Linked DNA regions of Homo sapiens. The protein of the gene in region 1 interacts with the protein of each later gene in a biochemical or structural test. Each region holds a gene or a part of one and is shown in the gene's direction. Other genes may lie near its edges.

The links. Proteins that work in one complex are often made in the same cells at the same time.
Region 2: the proteins of ALPI (region 1) and IRF5 form a complex in vitro, tested with the Homo sapiens proteins (one study listed by BioGRID).

Annotation. Positions count from the first base shown.
Region 1 is NC_000002.12:232,451,379-232,459,910, forward strand, and holds the start of ALPI (intestinal-type alkaline phosphatase precursor), read left to right. Parts: upstream 1-4,774; 5' UTR 4,775-4,821; coding exon 4,822-4,888; intron 4,889-4,970; coding exon 4,971-5,087; intron 5,088-5,201; coding exon 5,202-5,317; intron 5,318-5,520; coding exon 5,521-5,695; intron 5,696-5,771; coding exon 5,772-5,944; intron 5,945-6,186; coding exon 6,187-6,321; intron 6,322-6,416; coding exon 6,417-6,489; intron 6,490-6,619; coding exon 6,620-6,754; intron 6,755-6,838; coding exon 6,839-7,030; intron 7,031-7,253; coding exon 7,254-7,370; intron 7,371-7,481; coding exon 7,482-7,768; 3' UTR 7,769-8,532. UniProt on the Homo sapiens protein: Alkaline phosphatase that can hydrolyze various phosphate compounds.
Region 2 is NC_000007.14:128,940,697-128,948,735, forward strand, and holds part of IRF5 (interferon regulatory factor 5), read left to right. Parts: exon of another isoform or gene 1-728; intron 729-1,374; 5' UTR 1,375-1,385; coding exon 1,386-1,580; intron 1,581-5,148; coding exon 5,149-5,338; intron 5,339-5,804; coding exon 5,805-5,866; intron 5,867-6,326; coding exon 6,327-6,360; intron 6,361-6,533; coding exon 6,534-6,839; intron 6,840-7,032; coding exon 7,033-7,425; intron 7,426-7,513; coding exon 7,514-7,632; intron 7,633-7,876; coding exon 7,877-8,039. UniProt on the Homo sapiens protein: Transcription factor that plays a critical role in innate immunity by activating expression of type I interferon (IFN) IFNA and INFB and inflammatory cytokines downstream of endolysosomal toll-like receptors TLR7, TLR8 and TLR9.

The DNA of each region.
Region 1 (8,532 bases):
CTGTGTTGTGTTCTTAATGTTTATCAATAGTACATTGCTCAGTTCTGGAAAGCACTTAGCCAGATATTTAAAAAGCAACAGAAATTGAAGGGCAAAATAGAAGATGGAACAAAAACTCTCCAATAGTGTATTCAACTTAACAGGTTTTCAACTCACCAGGGTGCTATTGGAATACAATTGTCCCCCTGGTTCCTGTCATACAAGATCAAAGTTAAACCACTAAACACAATTGCAGCATCCTTGACTTCATACACTTTCCTTTCCACACATCCATATAGACGCCCGAAGCACCCTTCAGGGCAGAATTGTCTTTTGTCCCTCACTCTCAGGGGACAACCATTCACTAGGGCCCACCTGCCAGCCACCCCTGCCACTGTCACTACTGCTGGTATTAGGGGGCAGGGGTGAAGGAGGTGGCCAGATCAGGGCTCGGGGTGCCTGGCTGAGTGCCCCCTCCACTGAGCCCATTCCTGTGCCTGCAGCTTCCCACAGGCTGAGGCCCCAGTGTCCTGCTTGTGCTGCTGAGGGGGCTCCATGGCCTGTTGAGAGGCCTCCCCAGGAAGCCCATAGGGAGGAGGTTGGGGTGTCTCCTGCCTTGGGGGTGGGACAGTCCCTTCTTGTTCCCACCCCAGGTACCTGACCCAAGTTCTCCTGTGCATGAGGAATGCCTGGATGTCCCTCCTTGGTAGGTGGGATGGGCCAGAGGGAGGTCCTGCCTACACAGCCCTTAATTAGGAATTTAGAGATTTGTGCTCTAGGAAGGAGCTGCTTCCGCTACCATTTGGCCAACTGTGTGCTGTGCAGACCCGCAGCTTGGAAACAGGTTTCAAGGATGTTCAGGACTTGCCTCGTGTTCATAAAGGTCAGGGGTCGCCTCTTGCCCCCTGCTCCCCTGCTAACTCTGCAGCAGGCCCTGGACTAATTAAGTCCCCGCAACAGCCCCGAGACCCAGGCTCTGTGAAAGTTGTCAGAATCAAAATGGAGCCACTTCTGTCCAACCCTAAGAGCAACAACAAAATCATGCGGCCGGGAGGTTCTGAAGGAGGGCCCTCCCGCACACCTGCCTATGATCAGAGCCCTTCCGAAGCCTCTGGGAAGGGCACAGATGCCTGCAACAAGACCTTTTTTTATTTTTTATTTTTTGCCGGGACTTTGCAGCTCACTATGTGAGTCACAAGGACGGCTAGCCGGCTGCACAAGAACACTTGCCTAATAACGCTGTGTCCACTCATAAACTTATGCCGGTTCCTGGGATAAGCCCCTGGAATCAGTGTTCTCTTCCTTTCAAAACAGCTGTGTAGGTGGATGTGGTGGTGAGTGCCTGTAGTCCCAGCTACTCAGGAGGCTGAGGCAGGAGAACCCGGGAGGCAGAGGTTGCAGTGAGCTGAGACTGTGCCACTGCACTCCAGCCTGGGCAACAGAGCAACTCAAGAAAAAAAAAAAAAAAAAGACAAAAACCAAAAACCGACCATGCACTGCTCCTTTCGCCTTTCAAAGCACCCCTTGCCTCCCCTCCTCCGATGCGCCCCTAGTTTACTAAGGCCGGGGCTCTGCATGCAATGCTGCTGCTTATTCCCAGTTAAACTCCATAGTTTTGGAGAGCCTCCCTCTGTTTCTTAAGGTTGACAGGACTATCATTCTTTTCGTTCATAGATGAGGGAATTAAGGCTTGGAGAGGTTCCGTTCTGAAGGACACTCAGTAAGTGGTGGACAGAGAATTTCAGCTCAGACTCAAAGGCTATTTAATTTACTTCTTTTAAATCCATGCTTCTTAGCACTCAGCTAGTCACGTATCACCTTGACAACTTTTTGCCGTAGCCACATTACTGCCTGTGGTATGATTTACTGAATATTTTTCTCTACATAAGCTCAGATTTGCCTTAAGTCTATTAGAAAAGGAAACTTGTAACTGAAAAATGGAAGACCACCATCTCTTGCCATAAACAGAAGCAACTGTGTATTCCACACACACCAAAAGCAGTGTTCTTACAGCCTCCTTAGATGTTTTGAGTCTAAAGCATGCTTTATCTTGTTAAAGGGGAGATGGCAAAGTTAGGGTGGCAGTGAAACTAACCAAAGGTGGGGAAACTATGCAAAGTCCACAAGGCATTTCTTATTTTTTTCTTTTTCTGAGATGTTGTCTCACTCTGTCACCCAGGTTGGACACATATCTGGTTGTCAAGGATTAGGGACAGGGGAAGAGGTAGAGGAAAGAGGTGGCCTGGTTATAAAAGTACCCTGTGGGGTTGGAGCTCTTCAGCATCTCAACTATGGTGCTGTTACACAAACCTACTTAGGTGATAAATTGTATACACACTCCCACACACATGCACACGAATACAGGTAACACTGGGGAAATCTGAATAATAACTGTGGATTATGCCACTGGGGGAGACTAAGCAAAGTGCACAGACATCTCTTGTACTTTCTTCTTTTTTTTTTTTTGTTTAGACAGGGTCTTGTTCTGTCACCCAGGCTAGAGTGCAATGATATGGTCTTGACTCACTGCAACCTCCACCTCCCGGGCTCAAGTGATACTCCCACCTCAGCTTCCCAAGTAGGTGGAGAGATAATTTCAGCTCACACCCAAAGGCTATTTAATTTATTTCCTGTGGAGGGACCACAGGAGCAGGCCATTTCGCTCCGCTAATTTTTGTATTTTTTGTAGAGATGAGGTTTTTCCATGTTGCCCAGGCTGGTCTCAAACTCCTGCGCTCAAGTGAATCTCCCGCCTCAGCCTCCTAAAGTGCTAGGATTGCAGGGGTGAGCCACTACGTAGGGCCTCTTGTATTATTTCCCTTTTTTTTTTTTTTGAGACAGAGTCTCACTCTGCCACCCAGGCTGGAGTGCAGTGGCATGATCTCAGCTCACTGCAACCTCCACCTCCCAGGTTCAAGTGATTCTTCTGCCTCAGCCTCCCAAGTAGCTGGGACTACAGGTGCATGCCACCACACCCAGCTAATTTTTTGTATTTTTAGTAGAGATGGGGTTTCACTGTGTTAGCCAGGATGGCCTTGATCTCCTGACCTCATGATCCACCCACCTCGGCCTCCCAAAGTGCTGGGATTACAGGCATGAGCCACCGCACCCAGCTTGTATTATTTCTTACAACTACTTGTGAATCTATAGTTCTGTCAAAAATTCCAACTTAAACATGAAACTCAGGGTGGCTATAAAGCCTCCTGACTCACCTTGACTTTGGAATCAATCAATCAATTAATTGAGGAGACCCATTAGTGAGTCTCCTCTGACTTTCAGCCAAGAATGTTCCTAACTCAGCAAGATGAAGCAGGAGGTAGAGGAAACTAAGGGGGCAACAAGCAGGGGGCAAGAAGGACCTATGAGAGCGACATCTTCCCTGAGAGCCCCAGGACGACCACCGGGAAGCCAGGAGGGCGCAGGCAGGAGGACCCGGGAAAGCTCGGCCTGAGGGAGGCCCTAGGCGTGGTGGGGAGTGGGGCAGGGCAGGCAGAGGCTGGGCAGCAGGTGAGGTCCCCTGGGTTCTGAGGGCCAAGCCTGGGGTTTGAGGTAAACAGGCTCGAGTGGAGAAGGGGCTGCTGTGGTTGGGCTGGGGTGGGTGGAGCTGGAGGAGCCTTTTCTTCTTGAACCAGTTTTTGAATTGTGCTACAAAACACGGTACATCAAGTTTACCTCCTTCACCATTTTCAAGTGTACAGGGCGGCAGTGTTGAGTACACGCACAGTGTTGTGCAGCTGATCTCCAGAACATTCTCATCCTGCAACCTTGAAGCTCTGTCCCTATTAAACTCCAACTCTAACCCTAACCCCAACCCTAACCCATTGCCTCCTCCCTCAGCCTCAGGCAACCTCCATTCCACTTCTGTCTCTATGTATTTGACTCCCCTCGGGACCTCAGAGAAGTGTGTTCGTGCGTATTTGTTCTTTTGCACTGGTATATTTCACTGAGCATAATGTCCTAAGGTTCATCCATGTTGTAGCAGGTGTCAGGGTCGCCTTTGTTTTCAAGGCTGCGTGATACTCCATTGTATGTGTGCACCCTGTTTGGTTTCTCCATTTCTCTTTTGCTGGACACTTGGGTAGCTTCCAGCTCTTGGCTGCTGTGGATAATGCTGCTGGGAACATGGGTGTGCAGTTATCTGTTCGAGTCCCTAGTTCGCATTCCTTTGGCTACACACTCAGAGTGGGATGTCTGGACTGAAGCAATACTTTTGAACTCAGCCTGAGGTTACCAAACTCTCTGAACTCCTTATCAGAGGCTACACTTCTGGGTGTTCCCCGGGGCCCATGGAAAACAGACTCACCCCAGGCTCCATCTACCTGTGCAAGGGAACAGGGGTCAACCTCAAGTGCACAGGCTGCTCTGGAAGACCCAGCCCAGGTCTGGCTGACCCAGAGCACTGGCCCCTTCCCAGCCTGCGTCCTCAGGACATAGGTGTGGGCACCCATATACACCAAGTGGGTTCTAGGGCAGCCAGGCCACCCAGTGTGCCTCCTTTCACACTCCTCTGGGGCTCGTGACATTACGAGCCCTAACCCGGGCCCTGGCCTAGGCTGTGTGTTTCCAGTCTCACCTCTCTTCACACCTTGAATGAGGTGAATGAAGGAGTGGCAACGCGTCTCCCACAAGACACTGTGAGCCACACCCAGTCCCTTCCCTTCAGCAAGCTTGGCTTCAGGTCACAGGACTGGGCGGGGTCAAGATGGACACCAGGGGTGTGGGGAGGGACGTGGAGCATTTACAGCCAGGGGCAAAGTCCTCCCCTGATTTAAACCCAGGCAGCCTGCGCTGCAGCCGGTTCCTGGTGTCCCCACTTCGCCTCCCTCCTGCTGCCCCCAAGACATGCAGGGGCCCTGGGTGCTGCTGCTGCTGGGCCTGAGGCTACAGCTCTCCCTGGGCGTCATCCCAGGTAATGAGGCTCCCCAAGCTGTTCCACACACAGGGCACCCCCTCAGCCAGGCTGACCTGATCTCTACTCTCCCCCTGGCCAGCTGAGGAGGAGAACCCGGCCTTCTGGAACCGCCAGGCAGCTGAGGCCCTGGATGCTGCCAAGAAGCTGCAGCCCATCCAGAAGGTCGCCAAGAACCTCATCCTCTTCCTGGGCGATGGTGAGTGAGCAAGGCCTGTCCAGCCCCGTAGTCCTCACAGCCCCGGCACCCGGGACCTTCAGTGGTTCCAGGACAACCCTGGGGCCCAGGACTCACACATTTCTGCTCCTTCAGGGTTGGGGGTGCCCACGGTGACAGCCACCAGGATCCTAAAGGGGCAGAAGAATGGCAAACTGGGGCCTGAGACGCCCCTGGCCATGGACCGCTTCCCATACCTGGCTCTGTCCAAGGTAAGGGCTGGGCCACCTCAGAGTCCTCCAAGCAGAGGAGAGGGATCAAGGATATGGAGTGTGGCAGGAGGGAGGGAGCCAGGACAGCTGGGGCCTAAGTTAGGAGCTGGGAGCAGTTAGGATCCCAGAGGACCAGAACCAGGTCCTTGGTTGGGGTCTGGGTGTCCGCCCCGAAGTAGAGCTCAGGGTGTCTCCGTTCGCAGACATACAATGTGGACAGACAGGTGCCAGACAGCGCAGCCACAGCCACGGCCTACCTGTGCGGGGTCAAGGCCAACTTCCAGACCATCGGCTTGAGTGCAGCCGCCCGCTTTAACCAGTGCAACACGACACGCGGCAATGAGGTCATCTCCGTGATGAACCGGGCCAAGCAAGCAGGTGAGCTGGGGCCCGCTGTGGGGTCAGGACCAGGCCCAAGATCTCGGTCACCGATCCTGACCTCTGTCACCCTCAGGAAAGTCAGTAGGAGTGGTGACCACCACACGGGTGCAGCACGCCTCGCCAGCCGGCACCTACGCACACACAGTGAACCGCAACTGGTACTCAGATGCTGACATGCCTGCCTCAGCCCGCCAGGAGGGGTGCCAGGACATCGCCACTCAGCTCATCTCCAACATGGACATTGACGTGCGACCCCCGGGCCAAGGGCTGGGGCTGGGCAGAGGGGAAGGTGGCACAGGCTCAGATCCAGGCAACCAAAAGCCTGATCTGGGTCAGCAGGTTCTGGAGGTGGAGTTGGGGATGTAGAATGTGCAATACAGGCTGGGCCATTCCCACAGCCCTGGGGAGGGGAGCCAGGGGCTATGCATGAGGAGGGGGCACGGGGCCAGCCAGGCCCCCAAACCACCTGCCCCATCCATTGTCCTCAGGTGATCCTTGGCGGAGGCCGCAAGTACATGTTTCCCATGGGGACCCCAGACCCTGAGTACCCAGCTGATGCCAGCCAGAATGGAATCAGGCTGGACGGGAAGAACCTGGTGCAGGAATGGCTGGCAAAGCACCAGGTGATGGGGGCTGGTGGGTGTGGGAGGCACGGCAGGGGGAGGCCAAGTGTGTGGGTCTCAGGGCTGTGGGCTGAAGCCTGGCTCTGTCCCTGCAGGGTGCCTGGTATGTGTGGAACCGCACTGAGCTCATGCAGGCGTCCCTGGACCAGTCTGTGACCCATCTCATGGGTAATGACCCCCTTCCTGCCCTGGCATTCCTCAGACAACCTCAGAGGGTGCCATCCGAGCCTGTGTGCCCATTTGCCAGCACCCTCCCGCTCACAGCCTGCCAATCACCACCAAGCTCCTTGTCCCACAGGCCTCTTTGAGCCCGGAGACACGAAATATGAGATCCACCGAGACCCCACACTGGACCCCTCCCTGATGGAGATGACAGAGGCTGCCCTGCGCCTGCTGAGCAGGAACCCCCGCGGCTTCTACCTCTTTGTGGAGGGTGCGTGGTGGCCCCTGGGGAGTGGAGGAAGGCGGGGCGCGGCAGGGCAGGTTCAAGCATCACCCCCCTCTGGCCTTCCTGCAGGCGGCCGCATCGACCATGGTCATCATGAGGGTGTGGCTTACCAGGCACTCACTGAGGCGGTCATGTTCGACGACGCCATTGAGAGGGCGGGCCAGCTCACCAGCGAGGAGGACACGCTGACCCTCGTCACCGCTGACCACTCCCATGTCTTCTCCTTTGGTGGCTACACCTTGCGAGGGAGCTCCATCTTCGGTAGGCCTGGGGAGAGTGGCAGGTGCTGCTGCATCAATTATGAGGGTGAAGTTTGAGCTTCAGTTTCCTCCTCTGTCAAAAGTGTGCAATGCTGGCACCAGCCCTATAGGGATCTTGTGAGGACCGAGCCCCCGAACAGGCAAAAAGTGGCGGTGCCTGGCACATAGGAGGCACTCCCACAGCTGTGGTCAGCTCAACTACAGGGACCCGCATCTCCCTACAGGGTTGGCCCCCAGCAAGGCTCAGGACAGCAAAGCCTACACGTCCATCCTGTACGGCAATGGCCCGGGCTACGTGTTCAACTCAGGCGTGCGACCAGACGTGAATGAGAGCGAGAGCGGTGAGTGAGGCTGAATGGCCCGTGCAGGGGGACCAGGGTGCCAGGGATGGGGGCATTCGCGGGAGGGGGACGCCGCCTGCCTGCCCTGAAGTGCACTCACCCTCCTACCAGGGAGCCCCGATTACCAGCAGCAGGCGGCGGTGCCCCTGTCGTCCGAGACCCACGGAGGCGAAGACGTGGCGGTGTTTGCGCGCGGCCCGCAGGCGCACCTGGTGCATGGTGTGCAGGAGCAGAGCTTCGTAGCGCATGTCATGGCCTTCGCTGCCTGTCTGGAGCCCTACACGGCCTGCGACCTGGCGCCTCCCGCCTGCACCACCGACGCCGCGCACCCAGTTGCCGCGTCGCTGCCACTGCTGGCCGGGACCCTGCTGCTGCTGGGGGCGTCCGCTGCTCCCTGAGTGCCCCACTCCGGAGTTATCCTGCTCCCCACCTCCGGGCGTCCTGCCCTGTTCCCCGTCCTGAGCCGCCACTTCCAGCGAACACACACAGGTGTCCTGCCGTTGGACCTTCACCTCCTAGAGATAAACCAGCCTCAGCTGGCGCAGCGGGGCCCTTCTTCCCTCCGCATCCCCTTCAGGGAGCAGGAGCCCAGGGCGCCCTGGGAGCTGAGCCTGGGACTTCCAGGACCTCCCCTCAGGTTGTTCTCTGATTCTTCCTCCCAACCCCAGAGACTGCAGATTTGTGCCATGCGGCTGCCTGCACCCCAGACAATAAAGGGACCAAAACCACCCAACCCCCACCCTGCCTCTATCCTAAGGAAGACCAAGCAGGCCTGGACCCAGAGACGTCCCCCATCGTGGGACACGACACACCCAGACCGCGTGCCCCACCGTCTTAGCTTCAATCCTGGCAGCACCTGGTAGACCCAAGGACTTGGGTGGATCAGGACACCTGAAGAAGAGAAGCTTCCGGCAACCCTGCAACCCACCCAAGGAGGCTACTGGATCGGGGATTCCCAGGGGGGCTTTGACACAGTCCTCTGCTGTCTCCCCACTAGGATCATTCCACACCCCTGCACCTGACCAAGGGACCAATGAGGCAGAGGCTTGCCCCAAGTCACAGCCACTCAGATGCTTCCTGCCCCCCAGTGCCCATTCCAGGTCACCAGATCCAAGGAGCGCTTGAGGAGCTCTGGGTACAGGGCAGCAACCCAGAGCCCATG
Region 2 (8,039 bases), on another chromosome or scaffold:
TCTGAGGCCAGGGCAGGGCTGGAGCGTTCTGAACACCTCCCCGTCCCAGCCCCTGGGCCAGGCAAGGGCCGGCCTTACCTCTCCTGGGTTGGTGGCAGCAGAGCTGGGCTCTGAGGGAGGCCTGCAATGTGAGACAGTAGCAGCTCAGAGGCGGCACTAGGCAGGTGCAACCCCAAAAGGTACTGGGCAGGGAATTTCAGGGGAAACTGAGGCTCCATGCTGCAAGGCCAAAGCAGGCCCAGACACAGGGAGTTCAGCTCGAACGTTTGCTCCTTACTTGCTGACCGACACATTCACTTCTGATGGGCTGTGCTGTGTAATGACCCAGTCCTTTCTGTCTTCCACCCAGGGGTCTCAAGTGAAGGGCCAAGGGCATGGGTAAGGGGAGGAGAGGGACAGAAGGGGACTCAGGACTGTGGAGAGTTTCCGGTTCTGGGCTGGAGAGGGAGTTGGGCAGGTGAAGGGGAGGAGGCAGGGTCCCTCTGGCCTGACTCCAGGGAGGCAGTGAAGCTGTGGCCTGGGAGGCGGGGCTCGTGCCCCTGGGTAGGTAGCAGTTAGAGCTGTGGCTTCTGTTTCCTGTAGCCTTCCTAACAGGCTCCGGCAGGCGTTAGGGCCTTCCTAAGTGCTACCCGAATGCGTGTCCAGTGGGAGGAGAAGGGGGAGGACCAAGAACCTAGATGAATGGCCCTAGAGAGGTAACATCTGTTTGGTGCCTGCTGTCATTGGAGGTGGGTTGAGTTGGTTGATGGGATTTCTCTAAAGATATTGAGAAACTGCTTTCCTCTGAGGGCAGGTGTCCTTGGGAGCTCCAGATGAGATTCTTGTTGAGGGCATCTCCGGAGGGAACTCTCAGGGGATGGAGGGTGAGAAAACTTGGGCAGGGAAGAATCGAACTAGGGGTGTAGACTGAGCAGGAGGCTGTCTTCGGGCTGATCCCACAGAGCGCTCGCTGTCCCAGGTAGCCAGCTTGAGACAAGACAGCCGGGCTTTTGGTGTCAGGCAGTCACTGGCTGTGGGCTGCCCCCCAAGAGCAAGGGGTGGGCCTAACCTGTGGTGTGAGTAGTGGAAGGCGGTTCTCTGGCCAACGGGCTGCTTGCTGCTGTTAGCAGTTGGAGAATGGATGCCTCTGCCCGGTAAAGGGCACCTGGGGCCGCGCCCGCAGCATTCACTAACTCGTAACTCTCCTTCCCTTCCTCCAAACACAAAATTCCATGACACTAGACAAGAAAGCTGATGCTTGGAAAAGAGAATTGGCCTTAAATACCTAGATGGACTGGAGAGACCATCCTTTGTGGTCCATAGCTTGACCTCTGAGTACCCTGTCCCCATCCACCTGCAGACCTGCTGAGGCTCCCCTCTGGCTTTCTCCTGCAGACCCCTCTGCCATGAACCAGTCCATCCCAGTGGCTCCCACCCCACCCCGCCGCGTGCGGCTGAAGCCCTGGCTGGTGGCCCAGGTGAACAGCTGCCAGTACCCAGGGCTTCAATGGGTCAACGGGGAAAAGAAATTATTCTGCATCCCCTGGAGGCATGCCACAAGGCATGGTCCCAGCCAGGACGGAGATAACACCATCTTCAAGGTAAGCCCCGGGGAGGAGGTTGGCTGGACCTCCAGGGCACCCTGTCCCCAGAAGAGGAGCGCACATAACGCACACAGGCAGCTCCTCGAGGCTGGCCACCCGCCCAGCTACCATGCTGCTGCTGATGCCGGGCCCGGACTAAGGGGATGCAGACGTAGACACAGGGTACACCTTTTTCCTTTTTTTTTTTTTTTAAGACAGAGTCTCGCTCTGTAGCCCAGGCTGGAGTGCAGTGGCACGATCTCAGCTCACTGCAACCTCTGCCTCCTGGGTTCAAGCAATTCTCCTGCCTCAGCCTCCTGAGTAGCTGGGATTACAGGCATGAGCCACCACGCCTGGCCTAGGGCACATCTTTTCTAACCTGCACCCTAGAGCATCGTGGGGACTGAGGGTCCCCAGAAGGCCTTCCCATAACTCGTCCTACTCACCCTTTGCTCGTCTCACTCCTATTACTCATGAGGACTTGTTCAGTGCACGCATATGCTAAAGGAAGCCAACGATCATCATCTTTCTAAAAATTTTATTTTTAAATTAGTATATATTTATGGGGTACACAGTGGTGATTTGATAAGCACAGTGATCAGATCAGGTACTTAGCATATCCATAATCTCAAACATTTGTCATTTCTTTGTGTTGGGAACAAACTATTTTTAATATAAGATTCAGATACATCATCAATCTTTCAATTGTTTAAATTTTCTAATTTTTTTTAGAGACAGGGCCTCACACTGTTGACCAGATTCCAATTTTTTTTTTTTTTTTTTTTTTTTTTTTGAGACAGGGTCTCACTCTGTCACCCAGGCTGGAGTGCAGTGGCTTGATCTCAGCTCACTGCAGCCTCGACCTCCCAGGCTCAGGTGAGTCTCCCATCTCAACCTCCTTGAGTAGCTGGGATTACAGGTGCCTGCCACCACAACTGGCTAATTTTTTGTACTTTTAGTAGAGACTTTGCCATGTTGCCCAGGCTGGTCTTGAACTCCTGGACTCAAGCAATCCACCCACCTCAGCCTCCCAGAGTGCTGGGATTACAGGTGTGAGCCACCATGCCCGGCCCAATCTTTTTTTTTAATTGATGTACTACAACTGTACATATATACTCTTTTTTTTTTTTTTTGAGATGAGTTGTTGCTCTGTTGCCTAGTGTTGCACCATTGGTGAGCAGTGGTGCAGTCATAGCACAACCTCCAACTCAGCTCAAGTGATCCTCCAGTCTCAGCTTCCTGAGTAGCCGTGACTACAGGTGCATGCCACCATGCCCAGCTAATTTTTTTTTTTTTTTTTGAGATGGAGTCTTGCTTTTTCACCCTAGCTGGAGTGCAATGGCACAATCTCAGCTCACTGCAACCTCTGCCACCTGGGTTCAAGCAATTCTCCTGCCTCAGCCTCCCGAGTAGCTAGGATTACAGGCACCTGCCACCATGCCCGGCTAATTTTTTTTTTTTTTTTTTTTTTTTTTTTTTTTTTTGTATTTTTGGTAAAGACAGGGTTTCACCCTGTTGGCCAGGCTGGTCTTGAACTCCTGACCTCATGATCCACCTGCCTTGGCCTCCCAAAGTGCTGGGATTACAGGCGTGAGCCACCGTGCCCAGCCTAATTTTTTGATTTTGATATTTGTAAAGATGAGGTCTCACTTTGTTGCCCAGGCTGGTCTCAAGCTCATGGGCTCAAGTGATCCTCCCACCTCAGCCTCCTGAGTAGCTGGTATCACAGGCGCAAGCCACTGTGCTCTCTCCAATAATCTTAATGCTAGGATGTACCTCGCATAATAGTTTTTGCTTACATTTTAGTTTTTTTGCACATGTGTGTATATGGAATGCAAAATTGGAATCAAGTGAATATCTTGATTTATAGCCTGGATTTTTTTCACCCAATATCAGGATCAGCTTTCCTTTCCAACATACGTCCACATCACTTTTCGTGACTGTAGAATTTCCACTGGAATGGTTTAGCACAATTTGGTCACTGAGTCTTGGTTTTTAGATACTTGAGATTGCTTTTAAAACCTGAACTTAAAAACCACATTGTCATGTAGGCTGTCTTAATGCTTCCCTTTTTTTCATCCTCAATTATTTTGGGGGTTGATTTCCTAGAGTTGAAAATTGCTGGGTCAAAGGCAATGCTTATTTTTTAAAACTTTGGGTACATATTTTCTTAGTTTTTGGGCTTGATCCTTACCTTTCCAAAATTCTTTTGCTAATCCATTTATTTTGTATAGGTAATACAGTCACAAAATTCAACATTAAAAGGCATAGAATGGTTTAGAGCAAAAAGTCTCCCTCCTTCCCTGGTTCATCACCACCCACTCCCCTCCCTAGCCTTTCCCTAGAGGCAGCCGTGTTGTCATTTTCTTGTTTAGCCTTCCTGAGAGATTTTTATGCACATGTAAGCAAATATGGAACTATCCTTTCCTCTACTTTTCATAAGAAATGCTAGATATCTGCATATTTGTCTAGACTTAATACTTCTTGACGATTGCTACATGTCAGCTTATAAACAGTTTCCTGCTTTTTCTTTTTTTGTGCTGCCCAGTATTTTTCATTCAATGGGTTGGCCGTAATTTCACCAGCCCCTCATTGATGGATGTTGCATTGGGTATTTTGGGTCATCTTTTACACACAGCACTGCTGCGAATAACTTTGTGTGTGCAATATTTTGTGTGAATGCTTCTATGATATTTAGGATGAATTCCTAGAAATCAAATAGCTGGGTTAAAAGGTAGAAAGAAATGTTGGTAACCCTCACCTCACCTAATTGCCATTCAAAATAATACCAACAGCTCCAGTGTCTCGAGCCTGTCCTATGTGCAGGTTTAGCTCTGAGTGCTTTACGGACATCAACTCCCCTCATCTTTTTTGAGATAGGGTATCACTCTGTCGTCCAGGCTGGAGTGCAGAGCATAATCATGGCTCACTGCAGCCTTGAACTCCCCAGCTCAAGCAATCCTCTCACCTCAGCCTCCTGAGTAGCTGGGACCACAGGCACCCACCACTATGCCCAGCTAATTTTTTGTAAAGACAGGAGTCTCGTTATGTTGCCTAGGCTGGACTCCAACTCCTGGGCTCAAGCAGTCCTCCCACCTTGGCCTCCCAAAATGTTGGGATTACAGGTGCGAGCCACTGTGCCCAGCCAACATCAACCCCTTGAGTCTTCGCTGCCACTCCATGAGGTGGGCAACTGTGAGGAGATCAAGACAAAGGGAGGCAGTGACATGGCCTGGCACACAGCTGGCGGGGGGCACTTCCAGATTCAAACCCAGCCTGGCTCCAGGGTGCTCACCCTTATCCCGCACGCTGTCCTCCTTAGAGATCACACTGTTTCACCCTCCCAGGAGCAGGGACTATGGATGCATCTCATAGCCCCTAGATTTCATGTAGCTTGCTGGCAGCCTGAGGGCTGGGGCAGGACTGTGGCAGACTCCCACGCTGCAAACCAGGTCTGGGGCTCAGCGAGGCTCAGCCTGTAGCCGAAGTTCTCCCCACACAGTAGAGTCTCCTATGGGACAGGAGGCAGACTGGGGCTGTGGCAGGGATGAGGTTCTCTGTGGTCGGCTATTTCTTCCTGCCCCAGGCCTGGGCCAAGGAGACAGGGAAATACACCGAAGGCGTGGATGAAGCCGATCCGGCCAAGTGGAAGGCCAACCTGCGCTGTGCCCTTAACAAGAGCCGGGACTTCCGCCTCATCTACGACGGGCCCCGGGACATGCCACCTCAGCCCTACAAGATCTACGAGGTCTGCTCCAATGGCCCTGCTCCCACAGGTATCAGGCCTAGCCCTCTGTGGGCCACCTGGGAGGCTGTGCAATGTCCTGGCCCCCAGCCATGAGCTCTTGGGTGCAGGCAGGCCAAGGGCCCCTCTAGCAGGCAGTGGTCCAGGAAACGATGCGGGGGCTCCCGCTAGGTCATGACACCCAGGGCTTCCAGGAGTGGCTGGGATGGGTCACTGGCATATCAGGAATGGCTTGGCGTGCAGTCAGGGACCTGGGTGCTTCTTCCTTACCATTGCCCTCGTTTTGGCTTCTGGCTCCAGCCTAGGTCTCATGGCCCATGGAGTCGGGGAGGTCTTTCCCAATCCTGGTGGCTGTGCCCTCCACCTCGCCCTGTGTTGGGGGCAGCTTTGGGGAAGGCAGAAGCTGCATAGGAGCTACAGGCAGCCTCTCAGGGGATCTTGCTTCTCCTCCGACATTGACTCCTTTACTGCCCTGCTTTTCTCTCCCTGCTGTGCAGACTCCCAGCCCCCTGAGGATTACTCTTTTGGTGCAGGAGAGGAGGAGGAAGAAGAGGAAGAGGTGAGTGTGGGTTGAGGAGGCAGGTGGAGCCCTGGACGAGCTCTCTGCTGTCCCCATCGGCCTTAGGTTTCCGCAGCCCCACTCCCATGGAGCCCCGTGGCCCTCTCAATAGTTCTCCTTGTTTCTTCTCCTGGGATTCTGAACGATAGGAGCACAGTCCCCACCTGCTCCTTCCCAGGGCATTGTCATTACCCTGTGTGTGTGACCCACGCAGCAGTTGGGGCTTGGTAGGTCTGACTCCCTGCAGAAGGCAAATGAGGAAAGTGAGGCAAAGGGCTTTTCTGACCTGCCTGGGATGGACGAGCTGGGACCGGAGGCAGGGTCTTGCCTGAGCTAAACTGAGGCTAGGGGAGTTGCCTCATAGTTCTCGCCTGTTATTTCCCCAGCCCCAGGTCAGTGGAATAACCTGTCCTCCTTTCTCTCCCATCTCTTCCCTCCCTTGCTGGTGGTGTCCCTTCAGCTGCAGAGGATGTTGCCAAGCCTGAGCCTCACAGGTGGGGCCGGGAGGTGGTGGTTGGGGGTCTAGTATACAGAGAAGCTATAGGTACCATAGGTACCTGGAAGGGGGCTGATGGGAGGCTAGGGTGGCCCAGGGCTGGGAGGAGGTGTGCCTGGGAGGCAGTTCGTGGAGGTGGCACTGACAGCCGTCCACACGCACTCTCTGTAGATGCAGTGCAGTCTGGCCCCCACATGACACCCTATTCTTTACTCAAAGAGGATGTCAAGTGGCCGCCCACTCTGCAGCCGCCCACTCTGCGGCCGCCTACTCTGCAGCCGCCCACTCTGCAGCCGCCCGTGGTGCTGGGTCCCCCTGCTCCAGACCCCAGCCCCCTGGCTCCTCCCCCTGGCAACCCTGCTGGCTTCAGGGAGCTTCTCTCTGAGGTCCTGGAGCCTGGGCCCCTGCCTGCCAGCCTGCCCCCTGCAGGCGAACAGCTCCTGCCAGACCTGCTGATCAGCCCCCACATGCTGCCTCGTAAGGACCCATGGCTGGGCACGGGGAAGCAGTGCTGGGGGATTGGGGTAGGATTGGCAAGGAGGGTGGAGGGTGCTGGACTCCCTTGGGTGGGAAAAGTGGGAGGGCGGATGGGGCTGGGCCTGGCCACTGGGCTGCAGAATGGGGAGGCGTGGGGCTCAAGGACGGGATGGGCCTGCCTTCTGCCCCACAGTGACCGACCTGGAGATCAAGTTTCAGTACCGGGGGCGGCCACCCCGGGCCCTCACCATCAGCAACCCCCATGGCTGCCGGCTCTTCTACAGCCAGCTGGAGGCCACCCAGGAGCAGGTGGAACTCTTCGGCCCCATAAGCCTGGAGCAAGTGCGCTTCCCCAGCCCTGAGGACATCCCCAGTGACAAGCAGCGCTTCTACACGAACCAGCTGCTGGATGTCCTGGACCGCGGGCTCATCCTCCAGCTACAGGGCCAGGACCTTTATGCCATCCGCCTGTGTCAGTGCAAGGTGTTCTGGAGCGGGCCTTGTGCCTCAGCCCATGACTCATGCCCCAACCCCATCCAGCGGGAGGTCAAGACCAAGCTTTTCAGCCTGGAGCATTTTCTCAATGGTGAGGGCCCAAAGCTGTGATCCTCCTGGCTGCCTCTTGCCCAGGGCATGGTTCCAGCCTCTGACTAGGGACCTTGATTTTGATGCAGAGCTCATCCTGTTCCAAAAGGGCCAGACCAACACCCCACCACCCTTCGAGATCTTCTTCTGCTTTGGGGAAGAATGGCCTGACCGCAAACCCCGAGAGAAGAAGCTCATTACTGTACAGGTACATCTCCCCTATCCCAAAGTCGGCCTTGGCTTGAAAACTGGGGAATCCTGGGGCTAGGCCCTTGCCCCAGGCTGGAGGCTCAGGGCTCCCTGAGCAGTGTGAACTTGGCGGCCAGAGACCATCAAGGCTCAGAGCCGGAGAATGCGGTCTATTACTCACCCCTGATGGCTGTCCTCATGCACAGCTGGATCTGGCAGCCCTGCCACAGGTCTCCCTGTCTCATCTCCTCTTTGCCTCCCAGGTGGTGCCTGTAGCAGCTCGACTGCTGCTGGAGATGTTCTCAGGGGAGCTATCTTGGTCAGCTGATAGTATCCGGCTACAGATCTCAAACCCAGACCTCAAAGACCGCATGGTGGAGCAATTCAAGGAGCTCCATCACATCTGGCAGTCCCAGCAGCGGTTGC